Regions from separate parts of the Homo sapiens genome. Here region 2 is linked to region 1. A link means that fine-mapping ties the variant in region 1 to the expression of a gene that starts in the linked region. Tissue or cell type: stomach. Region 1 holds a variant in brackets; the other region holds the start of a gene. All regions are shown on one strand. Distances are from middle to middle.

Region 1 (8,173 bases):
CTCGGGGTTTGAACGGATACAGAAAGTTGCCATCGTTCACTGCAGGGGTCACCAAACCCCAGACAATTCTATATCGGCCAGAAATGCACTAGCAGATCAGGTGGCCAAACTAGCCCTACAACCCATGCAAGGCCAGTTTCTGTCCCTGTCCTTGTTCTCTTCTCTTTATTCCTCAGGAGGAAAGGAGGACTTCCGAGCCCAAAACCTTCAAAAGCAAGGACTATGGTATGTCAAGGAAGGGCGCTTTGTTCTTCCTCACTCTCAAACAATCCCTATCCTCCAAAGTCTCCACAACTCAATCCATGTCGGTTACAAACCTCTCTTACAATTTCTCCGCCTTATTCTCACTCGTTCTCACCTTTCCAGCCACGTTCAAGAAATCACCCAGTCCTGCTCTATCTGCCACTCAGTGTCACCCCAGGGCTCCCTCTGGCCACTGCCTTTTCCTACCCACCAAGCCCAGGACTGGGTACCCGGGCAAGATTGGCAAGTAGACTTCACTCACATGCCGCCTGATACACAGTTCCACTGTCTTCTAATCTTTGTACGTTTTCTGGGTGGGTAGAAGCGTTCCCAACAACTTCAGAAGGTGCAAATGTCGTCACACAAACTCTCATCATGCATATAATTCCCTGTTTCGGACTCCCAACATCCATCCAGTCCAACAACGGGCCCACCTTCATCAGCCAAATTACCCAAGGTGTCTCTACATCCTTAGGTATAAAATGGGTTCTCCACACACCCTACTGGCCTCAATCTTCCGGCAAAGTTGAAAAAGTTAACTCTGTCCTTAAAGCCCAACTTACCAAGCTGGCTCTAGAAACCCACCAGGCGTGGAGGAAAAAATCTCCCTTTTGCCCTCATGAGACTCTGCACAACACCAAAGTCACCCTCTTTTTATAGTCCCTTCGAAATCATGTATGACCAAACTTTTGTCTTGGGGCCTCCATCTTACCAGACACTGAGCCACTCAGGAATTACCTCCCTTTCTTAATCCAGACACGGTCTTTCATTCATGAAGCAGCAGATGAGGCCATGCCCCTTCCTGTCAACACCTCTTTGTCCTCTCAACATAACTGTCTTGCAGGCACAGACGTGTTTATCTGCCAACCCGACCGTCACAACAACCTACAGCCGAAGTGGACAGGCCCCTACACTGTGATACTCAGCACACCAACTGCAGTGAGAGTCCAAGGACTCCCCTGCTGGATCCATCGTACCAGGGTCAATCTCACCCCCAAGGCTACTCCTTCCTCCAAAACATTAACAGCGGGCAACACCCTCAGAGTCCCTGTATACAATAACGTAAACAACAACAACAACAAAAAGATCCTTAAAGGTAGGAGGAAGCCAAAGATGGCAACGGGACGAATGACTTCTGCAACGGATCATCGAATATTATGGTCCTGCCACTTGGGCTGAGGATGGTTCATGGGGTTATCACCTCCCATATATATTCGAAATAGAATAATTAGACTACAGGCGATTCTAGAGATAATCACTAACCAAACTGCTTCAGCCCTGGAAACGCTTGCGCAACAACAAAACCAAATACCCCCGGCAATTTATCAAAACAGGCCAGCACCAGACTACTTATCAGCAGAAGAAGGTGGGGTCTGTGGTAAGTTTAATATCTCCAATTGTTGTCTTAACATAGACGATAACAGAAAAGCAGTACTAGAAATCGCTTCAAACACCAGAAAAGTAGCCCATGGACCAGTCCAAACCTGGAAGGGATGGGACCCAACAAACCTTCTAGAGAGTGGTTCTCTAATTTAGGAGGATTTAGAACGCTGGTAGGGACAGCAATCTTCATCATTGGGTTCCTCCTGTTTCTCCCTGTATTATCCCACTAATAATAAAAGCTATGAAAAGTCTTGTTGAAACTACAGTTAACCGCCAGACAATCCAGACGATGCTCCTGCTACAACGACACGACGAATACCAACCCGTCTCTCAAGAATATCCCCAAAATTCAGTTTTTCTTTGTTTCCAAGGTGCCCACGTCACCCCATGTCACGCTTGAAGCAGTTATTGAAAAAGTCGTCCCTTTTCCCTTTTTCTGTAACGAAATAGACAGGAATGAAAGACTTTCCCCGGGGCCTGGAAGCTGGGGGTGGTGGGTGAATAACTCCTCCATTCTCAGGGCCAGTCCCAAAGCGCAAGACCACCTGCGCCAGCAGCGTGCGTCAGCAGGATAGCAGAAGCAGGAAGAGAGCTGGCTGGAAGACACGTACCCCCTGAAGACCGAGAGAGAGGCCGTCCGGGTACTGCGTAGCAGTTACATCAGACTGAGACACGTCCTGTTTACAGGAGACTATAAAACCCCTGCCCCATCCTCATTTGGTGCTGACGCCGTTTTAGGCCTCAGCCTGTCTGCACCCAGGCGCTCATTAAAACAGCGTGTTGCTCCACACCGCCTTGTGCTGTTTGTTGGCGTGCTCTTGGGGTTCGAACCGATACAAGAGCCTTGCAATGATTATGGGAGGTCTTGTCTTCGTCTTCCTCCATCCTGAGTGGGGCTGGTGCTTGTTGTCTGGTGTTGATGTTCTATGAGATTATGTCCCACAGAACATCAGGGCTTAGCTGTGAGTACCAGGCCAGCTCCTGCTGCCAATAGCTTTTCTCCGTCTCAGCAACATGTCACAGAGAGCTGTGGGGAGACCTCAGCCTGGTGTACCATAGAAGGCAGGGAGATGATATGTGAACTGCTAAGTGAAGAGACCGGTTTTGAAAAGCTTGGTCCTAAGGTGTAGATCCGGTTTCTAACGCATAACTTTTTTTATGGAGGTAACATTTAGATTTAACACTCTAACTGGTACTACTAATACAGAAGCATAATTTTTCTCTAATTTTGCATAAATAAACAGGTTTAAGGTTACTTAAATGTTGACAAGAGTGTCACCTCAAGTTCTGTGTTCCTCCCAACCCCATTAACATCTTTGTGGTGCAAGTGAGGAATTTTCTCTCCTGGGAACTAAATATGGCAGATGCTACTATGTTGCAGCAAGTCCTCAGGCTGAAGGACTGGGGCTCCACAAACATGTTGGAGATGGGACATGGTTGCTTGCACTTAAGGAAAATCGCTTTCTGTTAAAACTTGCTCGAGAAGCGAGACCATTACTGTTTAAACACACAGACTTTGAAGTCAGGACAATCTGGGTTTAAATCATCCCAGGCCTCCCATTTCCTTGTTGTGTGACCTTGGGCAAGTTATCCAGTCACTCTAAGTCTTAGCTATTACAAATGTAAGATGGGGATAGATATTTCTATCCATAATTTTGTTGAGAGAAATAAACCCACTGTGACAATGGGAAACACTGCACGTCGTATGTGCACGATATGTGGCATATGTATTGATTGTTACCAGGTAATTTTCAGCCATCACTTAAATTCCAGGAGCAACCAAAGGGAAATCACAATGAACTTCTTCCTGGGAGCCATTCTTAGGTAAAGGGGTGGTGCTGATTGTTATGAAATGATTATTTCACTGGATTCAGGAGATCTGAGTTATGGCTCTGACTTGGTAATGAATCAGCTGTATAACTTTGAATAAGTCTCTTAATCTTTTTGAGCTGCAATTTGCTTATTTATAAAATGAAAATAATGATGCCAGCCCACACCACCAGAGTTATCGTGACACTGAAATGAGAGGAAGCAACAATGATCAAGGTTTTATGGCTGTACCATATGAAAAGGTATGTTGCAAAGGTACACAGCATTAGAAAATGTAAGATGCTATCAAAGAAACTTGAGTTTATCATAAATTCACTCCTCAAAAGTGGCCTTTAAAATGGGTATCTAATCAGAACATTGTTTTTGTTTCCTTTTTTGGCAATATGACATACAAAAGTACACATTTTTACACATTTTTATCTACATGTAACCACCACCAGGATTTAAAGTAAGTGTGTCCAAGGAAGACATTAAATTGTCTTTGCAGATGACATGATTTTATACATAGAAAACCCTAATGACTTCAATAAAAAACTGTTAGAAATGATAAATTCCATAAAGTTGCAGAATACAAAATCAACCTATGAAAATCAGTAGCGTTTCTATACGTTAACAACAAACTATCTGAAAAAGAAATTAAGGAAACAATCTCATTTACAATGGCATAAAAATACTTAGAAATAAATTTAACCAAGAAGAAAAAAATCTGTTCATTGAAAACTATATCACGTTTTACATTGATAAAATAAATCGAAGAAGATAGAAATAAACGCAAAGCTACACTGTGTTCATGAACTGGAAAAAATCAATAATGTTAAAATGCTCATACTACCCAAAATGACCTACAGATTCAATGCAATTCCTATCCAAATTCCAATGACTTTTTCACAGAAATAGAAAAAATGATTCTAAAACTCACATGGAACCACAAAAGATCTGAAACCGTAAAACTACTAGAAGAAAACATAGGGGGAAGTCTTCCCAACCTTGGTCTTTGCAAAGAATTTTTGCATGTGAACCAAAAGCACAGGCAACAAAAACAAAAAATGGGATTTTATGAAACTAAAAAGCTTCTGCACAACAAAAGAAACAATTTAATACAGTGAAAAGACAACCTATGGAATGGGAGAAAATATCTGCAAACCATACATTTGATAAAGAGTTAATATAGAAAATATATAAGAAACTCAAACAACTCAATGGTAAGAAAACAACTCAATTTTAAAATGGGCAAAGGACCTGAATAGACATTTCTCAAAAGAAAACATATAGAGGCAATAGTTTTAAGGAAAAATGTTCAGCATCACTAGTTATCAGGGAAATGCAAATCAAAACCACAATGAGATATCACTTCACACTTGTGAGAATGGCTATAATCAAAAAGACTCTTTTGA[T/C]AACAAGTGTCAGCAAAGATGTGGAGAAAAGAAAACACTTGTACACTGTTGGCAAATTAGTACAGTCATTATGGAAAACAGTATGGAGATTCCTCAAAAAATTAAAAATAGAACAGCTATATGATCCAGTAATTTCTCTTCTACATATAGATACAAAGGAAATGAAATCAGTACGTGGAAGAGATATTTGCACTCTCATGTTCATTGCAGCATTATTTGCAATAGCCCATGTATGCAATCAACAGACAAATGGGTAAAGAAAATGTCGGGTGGATCACCTGAGGTCAGGAGTTCGAGACCAGCCTGAACAACATGGAGAAACACCGTCTCTACTAAAAATACAAAATCAGCCTGGCATGGTGGCGCATGCCTGTAATCCCAGCTACTTGGGAAGCTGAGGCAGAAGAATCACTTGAACCCAGGAAGCAGAGGTTGTGGTGAGCAGAGATCACACCATTGCACACTCCAGCCTGGGCAGCAAGAGCGAAACTCCATCTCGGGAAAAAAAAAAAAAAGAAAATGTCATACATATATATAGTTACATATATCTAATGAATATTATTCACCCTTAAAAAAAGAAGGTAATCCTGTCATTTGCAGTGACATGCATGAGCCTGGAGAACATTATGCTAAGTGAAATAAGCTTGGCACTGAAAGACAAATACTGCATAATCTCACTTATATGTAGAATCTAAAAGAGTTGAACTCATGGAAACAGAGAGGAGAATGTTGGTTATCGGGGTCTGTAGAACGAGGATATGGGGAGATACTGGTCCAAGTTTCAGTGAGACAGGATGAATAAGTTCTGCAGATCTATTGTATAGCATGGTGACTGTAGTTAAAAATAGTGTATTATATTCCAGAAAATTGCTAAGAGTAGATCTTAAATGCTCTCTCCATAAAAAAATAAGTCAGTGAGCTTATGGTTGTGTCAATCAGCTTGATTTAATTACTTTATTGCATATACATGTTGCAAAGCATAATGTTGTACACCAGAATATATATAAGTTTTATTTGTTCAGTAAACCTTAATAAAGCTGAAAAAAGAAAAATCAATGTTTCCAGCACACAGAAGGCTCCTTCCTGACCCGTCATAGCTAACAGCCTTCCCCTTCAGAGGTAACCACTACTTTGCCTTCTCCCACCGTTGATTTGTTTTTGCCTGTTCTTTTTGTGTTTTTGTTTTGTTTTGTTTTGGTTTGGTTTGGTTTTTGAGGTGGAGTTTCGCTCTTGTTGCCCAGGCTAGAGTGCAATGGTGCAATCTCAGCTTACTACAAACTCCGCCTCCCAGGTTCAAGGGATTCTCCTGCCTCAGCCTCCCGAGTAGCTGGGATTACAGGCAGGCGCCACCATGCCCGGCTAATTTTTTATTTTTAGTAGAGATGGGGTTTCTCCATGTTAGTCAGGCTGGTCTCGAACTCCCGACCTCAGGTGATCCACCCGCTTCGGCCTCCCCAAGTGCTGGGATTACAGGCGGGAGCCACCATGCCTGGCCTGCCTGTTCTTTAACTCCATAAAAATAGCATTGTGCAGTGTGTCCAGCTTCTTTTGTTCTCATAATAACTATGAGAGTCATCCCAGTTGTGTGTATCAGTGGTTTGTTCTTTTGTAAAATGGCAAGGAGTATCCCTTTGTGTGACTATATCACGGTTCTATTACCTGTCCTAGCCATTCCACTGTGGATGGACATTTGGGCTATTTCTGTTTTTCAGCAGCTAAAAATAAATTGGCTATGAACTTTCCTTTCTTTAAAAATTTATCTTTATAAAACGTCAGATGTGTTTCATAGAAAACGTGACTTTGACACATAATGAGAAACATCAAACATTTAAAATAAAGCCTCCAAACTTAAAGGATAATGTTAATTTCAAATGACATTATTCTTATAAGTAAATGATATTATAAAGTGCAGTCTCAGGCATTATTTTTACCTATGGGACACAAACAGAATAGTCCACAGCAGGATTTTTTTGTCATACTGCAGTTTGGGGATCATTAGTGTATTCTAAGTAAAATAATAATAATAATAATTAAGAAATAGAAAATAAGAGAAAAATTCAAACTCTTTGGACTTAGTAAAGGTAGGTATTATTTCTTTTTTTTTCTTTTGAGACGGAGTCTCATTCTGTCGCCCAGGCTGGAGTGCAGTGGCGCGATCTGGGCTCACTGCAAGCTCCACCTCCCGGGTTCACACCATTCTCCTGCCTCAGCCTCCCCAGTAGCTGGGACTACAGGCACCTGCCACCATGCCCAGCTAATTTTTTTTGTATTTTTTTTTAGTAGAGATGGGGAGAGACTGGAGACCTTTGTTTAACCAAACATTTTTTTTTTAGTAGTCTAACAATAGATGTCTTCTTTTTCTATAAAATGTTCCAAATACAGGTAAATCTTTGAATTGGCCTACTAGAGACTTTTCCTTTGTAGCCTCCCCATGGAGGCTAAAATAACAGATAGAGGAGGCTGGAGGATCCAAAGTGGTGAATAAGGCCGGGCGCCGTGGCTCATGACTGTAATCCCAGCCTTTGGGAGGCCAAGAAGGGCAAATCACCTGAGGCCAGGAATTCGAGACTAGCCTGGCCAACATGACAAAACTCTATCTTTACTAAAAATTCAAAAAGTAGCCAGGTGTGGTGGCACGTGGCTGTCATCCCAGCTACTCGGGAGGCTGAGGCAGGAGAATTGCCTGAACCTGGGAAGCAGAGGTTTGCAGTGAGCCAAGATCATGCCACTGCACTCCAACTTGGGCGACAGGACGAGACTCTGTCTCAACAAACAAACAGAAACAAACAAACAAACAAAAAACCCAAAGTGGCGGATAAGAGATGTCAAATCCAGGCCGGGCACGGGGGCTCACGCCTGTAATCCCAGCACTTTGGGAGGCCGAGGTGGGCGGATCATGAAGTCAGGAGATCGAGACCATCCTGGCTAACACGGTGAAACCCCGTCTCTACTAAAAATACAAAAAAATTAGCCAGGCATGGTGGCAGGCGCCTGTAGTCCCAGCTACTCGGGAGGGTCAGGCAGGAGAATGGTGTGAACCCGGGAGGCGGAGCTTGCAGTGAGCCGAGATTGCGCCACTGCACTCCAGCCTGGGCGACAGAGCAAGACTCTGTCTAAAAAAAAAAAAAAAAGATGTCCAATCCAGATGGTGACACAGTGACCCCACACAGTTATTCCTTGGGACAATATTTTGGTCAGCAAGAGCGGGAATGAGAATTTTTAGACATCGGCTTCAGTCTTGGTTTTTGTTTTTCTTAGTAGTAATAGAGTGATAGTGTAAGATGTCTGAATATATTTGCTTGAACTAGAAAAAAAGAATACAA
Region 2 (8,173 bases), 270 kb after region 1:
TAAAAGAAATTTAAAAATGTGTAAGCAAAACTCAATTGTATGTAAGAAAAACCAATTCCCCCTGAGGAAGAGAAAGAGCTGAAATCCTTTAAAAATTGACTGCCTGTTTTTCTGAGGCTAGTGAGCCTTATCTCCCCCTTTCCCAGGCATTGTGAAGACCCTGTTTCTCTAGCTGTGCAGCTGCAAGGTCACTAGACAGATAATCTCAAGTCACAAAACATGCTGTTCCTTGAAAAGTAAGAAATAATGTAATGCATGTCTTAATTGAATAACTGTCTTTGTTTCTCGTTTCTGTAATACACTTCCCCCTGCACAAATCTCCCCCCACCCCACAAAATGCTTAAAAGGTAGCTTGACTCTTTGTTGGGGGCTCAGTCTTTTGGATGTTAATCTGACTGGGTCAGTGCACCTAAATAATTAAATAATTCCTCCTCAACCCATCTCTGATGCCTTAATTATCCTGCTGCACACCATGACCTCTGCCTGGAAGGCTCTCTCCTGCCCCATGACTGATTCCCACTCACAGCTCCGACCTCAACTCAGCCATTCCTTCCTCTGGGAAGCCTCTGATTTCACCAACTCAGCCCAGTCACACTCCAGTCAGCTCCCTAGCAGCTCTTAGGGAAGTTGGAATGTGGCATTAGTATATGAGATTCGATCCGCTTGTCTCTCTGTGGCTCCTGCCTCCATGAGCATGTGCAGCCCCTACTGCCCTCCGTTCTATTTCTGGCCCCAAATGCAATGCCTTTTGCATGGATCCCAAAAAATATATTTTGAATGAATGAGTGAATGAATGAATGAAGGAATGCATGGTCATTTTGCTTTTCTTCTCTATCTTGAACCAAGCAATTCAGAGCAAGAATCTTTTCTTTCCCATTGCAAGTCACCAAACATGATGGAAAGCTGCCTTCTGGCATGGTTGTCCTTATGTTTCAGCTCCTCCGGGGCTCTCAGTGGCTTCAGAATCCCCTACAGACTCATTCTGCTGGGCACATGGTCTGAAACCCAAGAGACTCAGGCAATACTCAATTAGCCAGCCAGCTGCTGCATGCCACAGCTGTTAGCATTCCCTTCTGAGATGGGGGTGCCTCCCAGACTTCACCCACTAGTGCACTAAAACCAATTCCCACCACCCCATTTTTCCTGGGCTTAATCCTGTTCCTGACACTGATATGAATTGTGCTTTTGTAGTTACAGGCACCGAGGATCTTTCTGATTCTTCGAAGGTAAGGAGACACATGGGCTGAAACCGAGGCAGGCCTGGGACCTCCTAGGAGCAGAGGCAGTTGCCACCCATGGCCCTCACCTTGTCCTTCCCCTGAGCTGTGAGGCATTGCTGCCTTGCAGGCCTTGCTTCTCTCTGCACATTTGTCTTGCTCTTCTCTTGCTATGGAGTGGTTTCTTTATTCTGTGTTTTTAGTGGGATGTAAAGAGAAGCTGGGCCCCAACACAGGCTCTGCCATTTTCAGCTGCCTGCGTGGGGTTGGATCACATGGACTGGACATGTCCCCTCTGACACCCTTTCAGCAGGCACAGGGAGGGCACTTTCCTGTACAAAAGCTGTCGGCATGGCAGGCAGCACCACCAAATTCAATGGTCTGTGGAGGCCAGTGCTTCCATAATAAACTTTGTTTATTATCTTCTACAGAGTTCTCTGGAGTTAGAGAACCAATATGATATACATCTTAAAAAACAACTGTCTATCACAAAAAGGAGTATTACAATATATGATACAATAAAACCATCAAAATGAGTATTGAAATAAATAACACATATTCAATTTTTTAAATAGATAATATATTTACAACAGCTCAAAATACTTAAATTATGGAATAGTATTCAGTAGAAATTCTCTCACCCTTGTCCCCCATCTATCCAGTTTCCACACTCCCTCCAAAACAAGTAACCACTGTTTTTTTCACTGTTTATTTTGAAATAATATAGACTCACAAGAAATTGCAAAATTAATAAAGAGAATTCCTGATATAACCGCTCCTTAGAGTATGCTTTTCCAGGAAATACATATATAAGTTTGTATAAATGTATCATATTTTCCACTCTGTTTTATTCAAATGGCATCATGTTATACATACGTTTGCACCTTGATGCTAAAGACTGAATATGTCTTGGCAAAATTCATGTGTTGGAGCCCTAAGCCCCAGTACAATGGTATTTGGAGGTTGGGCCTTTGGGAGGTGAACAGGTGATGAGAGTGGAGCCCTCATTAATGAGATTAGTGGCCTTATAAGAAAAAAGATGATAGAGATGATCTGTTTCCACCATCCACTGTGTGAGGTTACAGCAAGAAGGCACCTGTTGGCAAACCAGGAGGGGAGCCCTCACCAGGAGCTGATTTGCCAGCACCTTAATTATGGACTTCTCAACCTCCAGAACTATGATAAATAAATGATAAATAAATTTCTTTCTTTCTTTCTTTCTTTCTTTCTTTCTTTCTTTCTTTCTTTCTTTCTTTTCTTTTCTTTTTCTTCTTCTTCTTCTTTCTTTCTTTTTTTTTTTTTAGAGGAACTTTCACTCTTGTCGCCCAGGCTGGAGTGCAATGGCACAATTTCGGCTCACTGCAACCTCCACCTCCTGGGTGGAGCTATTTTCCTGCCTCAGCCTCCTGAGTAGCTGTGTTTGCAGGCATGTACCACCAGGCCCAACTAATTTTTGTATTTTTAGTAGAGATGGGGTTTCATCATGTTGGCCAGGCTGGTCTCGAACTCCTGACCTCAAGTGATCTGCCCCTCTCAGCCTCCCAAAGTGCCGGGATTATAGGCATGAGCCACCATACCTGGCTGAGAAATAAATTTATATTGTTTAAGCCACCCGGTCCATAGTATTTTTGTTATTTCAGCCATAACTGACTAAGGCACTTTCTAAAACAGACAGACAAACTAACACATAAAAAGCCCTACTGAAGTAATTACATAATCAAGTTGTCACTTTAATTTTTTGTGTCACTTTTCCTGGATCAAAGTTTTTCTCTGATGCAAAACATGATATTCTCTTTACTCCATATATTGGCTCAGGTATCATAAAAAAAAAATCAAAACCCTAGGGCTGTTTTCACAAATATGCCATTTAAAATGCATGGTGCCAAACCTCTTTCCTGAACATTTTCTTCCAGCAGATCTGAGTTGGTGTGTGGAAATCTATTTAAAAAAAACAAAAACAAAAACAAGTTCTTCAGGTGATCTAGCTAGATCTAGCACATGCAAGTTCTTACTCAGATTCTGGCAATTGTTGTCTAAGAATATATCGACAGAGTACATACTTTTAAAAAGTTAATGGACTGGTGTATAACCAAAGCCACAACACCCCACACATGTGACTGTGATCTTTGCTCCTTTGCAAAGTCCTCACAGAGTTGAAGAGTTCTGCACTTTGTTCCTTCCCTGGCACACCTGTGTCTGCATTCCTTCTATCTCCCGGCATTCTCCACTCCTGTCTCTGTGTGTTTAAAAACCGGTGTGGGAAGTGTGCACGCCTGTGACGTCAGACTCCAGACCATGTATTTCCTGACTCCCATCTTGGTAGCCATTCTCTGCATTTTGGTTGTGTGGATCTTTAAAAATGCCGACAGAAGCATGGAGAAAAAGAAGGGGGAGCCTAGAACCAGGGCCGAAGCTCGCCCCTGGGTGGATGAAGACTTAAAAGACAGCAGTGACCTGCACCAAGCAGAAGAAGGTAAAGACACCAGCTATGCTGCTTAGCTTCGCTGTCGTGTTGTGTTGATGATGAGTGTGAGTCAATGGCAGGGCTTATGGAGAGGAAGAAACACACACAGGCCAGCTTCAACATCAACCTCTATTGTGCTAATGAATCAGTGCTTGGCACAGACAGGTCATCTCTCTCCAGTGATGAGCTTGTCACCTGCTGGGACCAACCCTTTTTTATTTTTGATGCCCAGTGAAAAAGCTGTTGAGAGGCTGAAGTTTTCCCTGGCTACAATTCTGTTCTGGTTGTTAAAATCTTTCTGCAGGAATTCATCCCAGGCTGGCAGTGGGCAGGGACTAAGAGGCCAGGTTTTGATCAGGAACTTTGAAATCTACCAAGTGGCATCACCTAGGAGGCTGCTACCTTTCCCTGTGCCAGGCCCTGGAAGTGAAAGCCTGGGATGGCCTCTGTCCTCAACAAACTGAATGTCCAGTTCAGCTGCCAAGATGATACACTAGAATCAGAGAGAGTAACAAAGAGACAGACCCGGTGGAACTGATTCTAAGGTGTTTAGAGTAGGCCTGGGAGTTTGACGGTGCAGTCAGGGAAAGGACAAACCAGGCTGGGAGGATGAATAGGGTACAAATAGCAAGTGCTGGGAGGCCTGTCAGGCAACAAGGAGCCAAAGGAGCAGAAGCACCTGGAGGCCTGGGGCAGGGGTAAGAGAGGAAGTGGAGAATTGAGGGTGGAGGGAGAGGGTAAGAATGGAAGTAGAGAATTGAGGGCGGGAAGGTTATGGCCACCTTGAGAAGAAGAGGTGATGAAGGAGGCAGGTAGGAAGGGAGAGAGCGTGGAGGAAGCTTGAGCCATCTGTGTTTGAGAAGCTTTGTCTGGGATGGGTTCGATTTGGAAGAGGCTCTGTGATCTTCAGCTGGGCTAATGATGCCCCCATCCCCAAACAGAGGCCACCTGGACATGTGAGTGTGTGTGAGTGTATGTGTGTGAGAGTGTGTGTTTATGAATGTGCATGTGTGTGTGCGCGTGCGTGTGTGTGTGTGCATGAGAGTGGATGTGTGTGCGCGTGCATGTGAGTGTTCATTAATGTGCATGTGTGAGTGTGTGTGCATGAGTGTGTGTGCACGAGTGGGTGAGTGTGCGTGTGAGTGTGCACGTGTGTGCATGAGTGTGTGTGAGCATGCATGAGTTTGTGTGTGCATGCATGAATGTGTGTGTGCGTGCGCATGAGTGTGTTTGTGAGAGAGTGTGTGCATGAGTGTGTGTCCTAATCTCAGGACCGGGGCGCAGGGTGTCCAGCTGGCTCTCAGTGCTAACAGCCTGTAGTGCTGACTGCACCGTACAGGAGTCTAGCCTCTCAGCAGGGCTGCCTCTTGCTCTCCTACATTGAAACCTCTTCCACTCAGAACGTCAATTCTACCCAGCGGAGAAGCACTTCCCTTAATCCAGGGAACATCTGCTGTGAAGCTGGGTAATGGTTTGTGCTGGTAAGGATGGCCTGGATGGTGGGGGCAGGTGGGAATGCAGTGGAAGGCGTGGATCAGAGTAAAGTTAATGGAAGAGCAACAGGGTTTGCTAGTAAATTGGATATTGGGAAAAGGAGGAGAGAGGGAGAGTTGGAGACTGGAAGCTATCATAAGTGGGTGAGGGAATGAGGATCCAGCTTAAAGGGGAAGATGTTGAGTTCCATCGAGGACATGTTTGATTTCAGACGACAGTGACACACCTGAGCAGAAAAGGGAGACAGCAGTCTATGTTAGGGGCCCAGGCCACAGATACTGACTGGAGAGTCACCAGTATGGGGAAGATACTTGGAACCTGGAGAAATAATGAATCCACAAAGTGGGCATTGCTAGAGAGAAGGCTGAGGATAGAACTTGAGGGACACATGCGGTTAAGAGGAACTGTGGAAGAAAAATGTACTAGAGAAAGGGAGGAGCTGTGGGAAAGGGGGCTCTGGGATCATAACAGTAACAAGCCCTTATATATTAATAGCTCTTAATGTATGCAATCACAGCCACATATTATGTGTAGTAAATCATTTCATCTTCATGACAGTACAATGAGGTAGGCACTATTAGAATCCCCATATTACAGATAAGGAAATTGAGGCCCCAATAGGGTAAGCTCAGGAAGGTGATTGCAGAGATAGGACCCAAGCCAGCTGTTTGCTGGGCTGCCTCTCCCCTGGGAGAATGACCTAGAATGGAGGAGGCAGGAGATAGCCAGCAGGGACCAACATTCTCTGAGAGACCAGAAAGAGTGTGCATCAAGGAAAGGCCACTGGATTTGAAGACCCAAGAGGTTTGAGGACACAGGAGAGCTCGGGCAGGCTGTTGAGGGTCAGGTCCTGGGGCTGGGCCTGGAGGCTGGGAACATAGAGCAGAACTGGAGGGCCTTTCTCTGGCTCTCTGCCTGATCACTTACTTTTGCAAAATGCTTTGCCTCTTCATTCTCTGTTCCCTGCCATCCTCATCCTTGTCTTATCTTTATACAGAGGAATGAACAGGACAGCCTTAGTGTCGTCCTTAGCAGCTGGGACAAAGTCTGCCCTGAGTGTGGTGTCCACAGATCTCTTGTATGGGGATTCTAATAGGGCCTACCTCATTGTATTGTCATGAAGATGAAATGATTTACTCCACATCTCTTATGTTGTTTACATAAGTGGTGCATGCCAAGGTCACACAGGTGACCAGTGAGAACCAATGCTTAAACTCAGGCTTCTCAGCCCCCCAAGTCCCTGCTCTCAGTCACAGGGTGGTTGGACATGATCTACGTGGGGATATTACTCTAGGTCCAGAAGGGATTGAGCAGGAGCTAACTGGAGAAGAGAACGGACTCCTTTACTGAAGACACATGGAGTTGGTGTTGTTGACTGCAAATAGATACCAGATTGAAACCATTTTTAATATTAACAAGGTATTAAATGGTAAAATAAGTATTGTAGGCCATTCTAGCATGAGTTAAGGAAAATATGGGTACCCATCCAACCTCCTGCAGCTCTGATTCACAAAGAATTCCTACTGCATGTTCACAGGTCAGAGAATCGGCATGTGTGTGTGTGGGTGGGTTGTGGGGTGGTGAGGGGTCATTGTGTGACCATGCTTATTAGACATGTGTGTGTGGGTGGGGTGGGGGGTGGTGAGGGAACATTGTGTGTCCATGCTTATTAGACATGTGTGTGTGGGGGTGGGGTGGGGAGTGCTGAGGGGTCATGTTGTGTCCATGCTTATTAGACATGTGTGTGTGTGGGTGGGGTGGGGGGTGGTGAGGGAACATTGTGTGTCCATGCTTATTAGACATGTGTGTGGGGGGGTGGGGTGGGGAGTGCTGAGGGGTCATGTTGTGTCCATGCTTATTAGACATGTGTGTGTGTGGGCGGTGTGGGGGGTGGTGAGGGAACATTGTGTTGGTCCATGCTTGTTAGACATGTGTGTGTATGGGTGGGGTGGGGGTGGTGAGGGAACATTGTGTGTCCATGCTTATTAGACATGTGTGTGTGGGGGTGTGTTGGGGGTGGTGAGGGAACATTGTGTGACCATGCTTGTTATACATGTGTATGTGTGTGTGGGTGGGGTGGGGGTGGTGAGGGAACATTGTGTGACCATGCTTATTAGATGTAGGGTACAGTCTCCCTTTGCAAACCAGCCAAGGTTGGTGTCCTGTTAATACCTTGTTTGTCTACAGTTAGGGTCCAAGAAAGAAGAGTTGCTGAAGTTTATCTCAAAGAAATAAGTCTCAGATTGTCCCAGTAAAGTGAACTGAAAATCCTACCCACAAATCCTCTAGTTAGGCTCAGATTCATAGAAGTCCATAGAAATGGGAAAAGAAGAAAAAGATAGGAAACACATCTCATCAAGATGAATCTGTTTTAGTGTTAGTGGGGGATTCTTCTGCACTTAGCTTCACTGGCCATCCAAAAGCTATTATTCTAACTGAAGTCACTAGCTGAATAATAAGTGACCCAACTTGTCCAGTCTTTTCTAAGAAAGGCCTGAGTTAAAATTTTTTATCCAGTGTGAGTAACATCTGAGAACAAAAATGTTCCTACAAACTTGAGAAACAGATTGTTATGTGCCCATAATAACAAGTAGCTTTCAAAACTGGTTCCAAGCCTGAGCAGTGAATCAATGACAACTCATTTCAGAATAAACTTGGCAAGCTAACCAATCAGTGTCAGCCTCATGCTTCTGAAAGCCAGCCAACCAGGGGTGCACTCACTCCAGGGCCAGCTCCTCTGAGTGTCAGAGTCTCAACCAAATGACACTGATCCTACAAATGATGTGTGCCACTTGCAGCTCTGAAAGTCCACCAGTGCCTGAACTTCATGCTCCCCAACCAAGTAGCATACTAGGGCGAGTCTCTGGGGATTAGCAGGAGCCAACTGTTAAATATTTAGGAGTTTTTTGTTAAATCATTAGTGGCTTGAAGTCACGCCATGGTGTGATTATTTACATCAGTGGATACTGGCAAGTGCTATGAATCAGTGCTTTCTCCC

The links. PIP is the estimated chance that this variant, and not a neighbour inherited with it, causes the effect.
Region 2: IYD starts here. The variant in region 1 is fine-mapped to the expression of IYD in stomach (GTEx, PIP 0.99).

Annotation. Positions count from the first base shown.
Region 1 is chr6:150,098,601-150,106,773 of GRCh38, forward strand. No RefSeq gene overlaps it. Among named protein-coding and RNA genes, the nearest start is that of ULBP3, 34 kb to the left of the region's middle. The variant T/C (reference allele first, on the strand shown) is at 4,851.
Region 2 is chr6:150,365,520-150,373,692 of GRCh38, forward strand. It overlaps IYD (iodotyrosine deiodinase), which reads left to right and starts at 3,493. Exons shown (of 5, transcript NM_203395.3): 1 at 3,493-3,690. The coding sequence starts at 3,513.